2 separate regions of the Homo sapiens genome follow, and region 1 is linked to region 2. The links come from fine-mapping of genetic effects on gene expression. Tissue or cell type: whole blood. Region 2 holds a variant in brackets; the other region holds the start of a gene. All regions are shown on one strand. Distances are from middle to middle.

Region 1 (2,923 bases), 120 kb after region 2:
AACAGGGGGAGATGGGAATGGGGAGTGACCACTAATTATTTTTGGGGGTGGCAAAAATGTTCTGGAATTAGATAGTGGTGATAGTTTCAGAATTTTGTAAATATATTTTTAAAAACACTGAATTGTATACTTTAAAAGAGTGAATCTTATGGTTTGGAAATTATATGTCAATTTAAAAATCCACTTTAGCTGGCTTAAGAAAAATTTTAAAAAGATATTGGTGACTCATTGAAACTCCGGTAGGACTAGAGAGTCAGGTTTGTAGGCCATGTGGCTAGGGACAAGCCCCAGGTTACCCTGTAGCGGTTTCTACTGCCACTGCCCTGAGCACATATCTGGCAGCTCGCAACCCCAAATACTGAGCATAGGATGCCACTAGGTCTCTTGTCCCTGCTGCCTCTGAAACGAGCTATGCTTCCAACATCCTGGATTTTACATGGTACCTCCTTATCTACACCTTCTTCTGGATGTAAGTCACTCACAGGAATATCTCATTCACAAAGCTCCAGCCACTTGCCTCTACCTTGGATGAAAGAAAGGCTGTGAAAGAGAATTTCTAGCTGTTTCTTTGGGGAGGCAGAATTTGGAGAAAAAGTCCTTAAGTTGATTTAAGTAAGAGGTTTTCTTTTTCTTTTTAAAGAAAGATCCTCCGTTTTTAAATTTTTTTCAACTTTTATTTTAGATTCAGGGTCTAAGATTCAGGGTGCATATACAGGTTCATTTCAAGGGTATATTGTGTGATGCTGAGGTTTGGGGTGTGATTGAACCTGTCACCTAGGTAGTGAGTATAGTACCCAATAGGTAGTGTTACTACCTTTGTCTCCCTCCCCACCTCCCCCATCTTAGCAAGAGGTTTTGAAAGATGCTGAGCCATCGAAGAACATGACAAATGTCCACTAGAGGCATCTTCCCACTTTAGGTTTGTATACATTCTTTCTCTTTTATTTTTTTTGAGATGGAGTTTTGCTCTCGTTGTCCAGGCTGGAGTGCAATAGGGCAATCTCAACTCACTGCCAGCTCCACCTCCTGAGTTCAAGCGATTCTCCTGCCTCAGCCTCCTGGGTAGCTGGGATTACAGCCGCCTGCCACCATGCCTGGCTGTGCAGATGGGGTTTCACCACGTTGGCCAGGCTGGTCTCAAACTCCTGACCTCAGGTGATCCGCCCACCTCGGCCTCCCAACGTGCTGGGATTACAGGTGTGAGCCACTGCACCTGGACGGGTTTGTATAATTGCTACTTTAATGGTACTTCACTATTTAGAATAATTGGTGGAAAGGATCATTTGAATTAATGAAAAGCTGAGTTATACCAAGAGAACTCTGGAGGATGAAAATGGAGAAAAGAACAAAGTGATGAACTAAGAGCTAATCCTTCTTTCACTTACTTATTAAATAAATAGCTATATATTTAAAAAGAACTATGGATATTGGGCAGAGTGCTAAGCACAGGAGATACAACAGTGAAGAAGATAGACAAGACCCTAGCTCTTGAGCCCTTTAGGCTACATGTATAGATGAGGAAACATAACGTGACAAGTAATCAGATATGAACAGGGATACAGAAGAGGGACAATGAGTAGAAAAAAAACCACCTTCCCCTTTTATTAACAAAAGGAGCTTTCATTCTGTGTCACATGGAGAACAAGCGTTCTTTTATGACCTATTGGAATATGCACTCCCCTCCTCCAGTTGCTGTCAACTTTATAAGGCAATAAATTAATTGTGGCAGAAGCTGGCTACCTCAGCCCAGTTACCTTTGCTCAGTGCTCCCTATGAATTGCTGAGGGAGAGATACAGCATAGAAAAAAACAAGGTGATGCGGTGAGTACGCTTCTCCATGCAAGCAGGGCTTTGAACAAGGGCAGGAAGGTCCCTTTCTTTTTGTGTGATTTTCTGTCTGCTGCTCTGTTAAGTGATCTGGATGCCCATGTTTTCCTTCTGGACTTAATATTTTCTTCCTTTTCCATAAAATATGAGGAGTGAGGATGAGATAGTTGATGGAGAGGAGAGACTGTGTGTGTGTGTGTGTGTGTGTGTGTGTGTGTGTGTGTGTGTGTGGTGTCAGTGTTTGGAGGACAGGTTGGGGGAGGTCTGGTGTGAGATCCTCCTCTCTCACTGGGAGAAATTAAGGACAGAGGAAACAGATGGGATCCTTCTGGAAACTATCTCAAGATGGCATGGATTTGGAGGAAGGTGAATTCCTCCCAGCTTTGGGCAGGAAGGGTTTCTAAGTAGGCAAGAATTTCTACCTTTAGGAATCCCCATCCTGTCCTCTGCCTGAATGACAATAGCTCCTAAGGCAGGAAAATACCCAGGGTTATTCCCAGAGCGTTCCTGTACTTCCTGAGCTAAGGTGCTGAACCTGCTCCCTCAGGAGGATTGAGGAGCTGTGGAGTAGGTCCCTGCTGCTGATTTTTAGAAGCTAGAAAGAAAAAAGTCTCCCTGTGGAGAGAAATAATACTTGCAGAAAGAGACCAATTGATGAATAATGCCTTTGCTGTGGTATTGAGTTGTGGGCTGTATGTATAAGAAACGAAGTTTGATACCATAGCACTCTTAGGGTAGGTCCTTCCTACTTCTTTCTCTACCTGAAATTCCACCATTGGAGACCGATCCTCTAAGTCTTTAAGCTCTGCAGCCTAGGATACATTGTCGAGAGAGTATTCAAGTACTATTTTAAAAAGTAGCGGCTCTCGGTGTTTGTCTCAGTTCCACCACTAACCGTGACTAGACAAAATTTCTTAATATTCATCTATAAAATGGAAATCATGATATCTGTCTGATCAGCTTCAATGCAGGGATTTTATGAGAATACAGTCATATGATATATATTTTATAGGGATTAGAGTATATCTTTTAAATAATTTAGACTAAAAGAGAGACAACTGATTAATTTAGGTAAATAGTAAAGAATAGTTAATAA
Region 2 (2,923 bases):
GAGAATTACATGAAATTAACTTGTACCTTGGCCTTCACAGAAATGAAAAGAATACTGGCAGTTAATCTCTCTGCTTTTCCTTCTGTGGGTTTGAATGTTTTCTTTCTGCTACTCTCTACATGTGTATCCCATTCTCTTTTGGACAAACAAGCATTTTCAGTAAAACTAATCTCTGTATCTTAATAACATGCCGTAATCCCACAGACATAGTGCTCACTCAGTGCAGTATGATTCAGGCACTGTGTCTCAAATCTAAATTTTTGGGAGGGCGAATCCATCTGGACGAAGTCGGATCATCTGTCCAGCTGGTTCACTCAGCTGAGATCAGAGTGTTAGGGTTATGTTGAGCTTCCCACACAGAAGTGGACCATGCAGGTGTCAGCGAGGCACAGGGGAGGGGGGCATGGAGGAAATAATGGGGGTTTCTAGAACAAGATTTGAGCTTAAAGAGAAATAGCCATCTCTGAGGTGAGGATGCTAGAATTTGACAACTGATAGGATTGGAGGGATTCCCGTTTGGGAGACTTGGTGGCAAATCCACTTTGAATTTGTTGAATGAATGAACAAACATTTAGTTTGAAAAAGCCATTTTCTGTATTTACTGCTTTCAAACCCTATGAACATTGGATTCCTGGATTGAAATTAAATTAGTATGACTTTAACCCCACCACTATATGAGTGACCTTTAGCAACTCATTTCTCTTAGTTTCTGTTTCCTCATTTATACATGGGCATTAAAAATACCTGCCTTATCTTAAAGGATTGTTGTGATCAATGAAATAGTACAGATTAAAGTACTCCGAGGCTGGGCGTGGTGGCTCATGCCTTTAATTTCAGCACTTTGGGAGGCCAAGGTGGGTGGATCACCTGAGGTCAGGAGTTCAAGACCAGCCTGGCCAACATGGTGAAACACCATAGCTACTAAAAATACAAAGATTAGCCGGGCGTGGTGGTGCATGCCTGTAATCCCAGCTACTCAGGAGGCTGAGGTGGAAGAATTGGTTGAACCCAGGAGGAGGAGGTTGCAGTGAGCCGAGATTGCGCCACTGCACTTCAGCACTTTAGCCTGTGCAACACAGCAAGACTCTGTCTTAAAAAAAAACAAAAATATTTAAAAGGTACTCTGAAAACTGCAAAGTGTCACACAATGCAAAGTTGTTGTCGTTTTTTGTTTTGTTTTGAGACAGAGTCTCACTCTGTCACCCAGGCTGGAGTGCAGTGGCGCAATCTGGGCTCACTGCAGTCTCTGTTTCCCAAGTTCAAGCGATTCTCTTACCTCAGCCTCCCGAGTAGCTGAGATAACAGGCGCCCGCCACCATGCCTGACTCATTTTTATATCTTTAGTAGAGACGGGGTTTCACCATGTTGACCAGGCTGGTCTCGAACTCCTGACCTCAGGTGATCCACCTGCTTCGGCCTCCCAAAGTGCTGGGATTACAGGCGTGAGCCACCATGCATGGCCAAATGTAAAGTTTTATGTGAATAC[TA/T]GGTGATGTGTTATTCCTAAAATTCTCTCTGTACTCATACTTGTGTGTGCATGTGTTCTTATCTGTGGTGGTGAAGAGGAAAGGAGTAGAAGACGGTGTAAAGCTGCTAAATAATAGACATTTCACAAGACAAGGAAATGCTGTAATGTCCTGTGTACATTGTTTCCACTCTCACCTTCCTCTGAACATTTCTGGGCAGAGAAATTACTCCTACTCCAACTAACTCCTTTTTGCCCTTTGCAGGTGGCATGAGATGTTAAGGTCTTTTATATGGGACAAAAGAAGGAAAACAACTTGGCTGCAATAAAAACAGAGGTAAAAATTAATGTTTGTAGGCTATGAAGACTGTGAGAAATCATTTTGATAGGTGGGGGTGTAGATGCCATGTGCTTGTGAGTGTGTGTGTGTGTGTGTGTGTGTATGAGTATGTGAGAGAAAGAGGGAGAGAGAGAGAGAGAGAGAGAAAGAGAGTCTTGTAGTAGTGGTTTTTCTCCATTGGCCTGTGGAATCAGTTCAGTGTGGGATGTGTTGACTGTTTACTGTGGCTATTCCTAAGGGTTGAGGAACTGGAGGAATAGTTCTTAACAGAATTTAAGCTAATGATACTGCTTGTTGGATATTATTTCATTTTCAGAAAGGACTGGCTGAGGAGGGGTTGGGAAACTGACATTGGATGTCAGGTACTTATGTCAGCTTAGGCTCAAAGTAACATCATGAAGTACTCATGATCATCCCTGATTTCCAGATAAGGCAACTGAGCTTCAGAAAATTGAAATGGTTGTCCAAGTTCTGCAGAAAGTAAGTAGAGGACCTCATATTTAAGCCCAGGCTAGTTTGATTTGAAACTCCATGTTCTTCTTTCTTTTTTTTTTTTTCGATTATTAGAGACAGGGTCTTGCTGTGTTGCCCAGGATGGAGTGCAGTGGTGCTATCATAGCTCCCTGCAGCCTCAAACTCCTGGGCTCAAGTGATCCTCTTGCTGCTGTATGGAGGCTGAGAATCCCTAAAGTGCATTCTCCAAATTTTCCAAAATTCCTCAATTTTTATGGAAAATTCCCCAGATTTTCAGTTGAAATCATCTGAAAATTTAACATGAAAATACTCTCCAAAAAAAGATTTATCTTGAATGAAATACTATGTTTGACAATTTCATACTAAAGGGATATTTTAGGGACACCTAATCCACCCATAGTTAATTACTGGTAAAATCCACACAGATAAAATTATTATTTTCTACAAGGATTTTATTCCAGGAAGGGAGAACACATGAAGTCATGTTCCATGTAGGAGGAGGAAGGATGCACACTGGGCCTCATCTGTCACTTCTGGGCTCAGCATTCAGAATGGGCTCTTCATGTGGGTCTGGCTTTGACAGAGAGTTTGAGGAGGCTCTGTGGGCAGCATCTTAAGGAGTGGCTAGCACTCCTCTGAGCACT

The links.
Region 1: MGAM2 starts here. The variant in region 2 is fine-mapped to the expression of MGAM2 in whole blood (TOPMed, PIP above 0.99).

The regions. Positions count from the first base shown.
Region 1 is chr7:142,109,987-142,112,909 of GRCh38, forward strand. MGAM2 (maltase-glucoamylase 2 (putative)) reads left to right here and starts at 1,732. Exons shown (of 48, transcript NM_001293626.2): 1 at 1,732-1,821.
Region 2 is chr7:141,987,203-141,990,125 of GRCh38, forward strand. It overlaps a transcript of MGAM not described here. Among named protein-coding and RNA genes, the nearest start is that of MGAM, 7.2 kb to the right of the region's middle. The variant TA/T (reference allele first, on the strand shown) is at 1,487.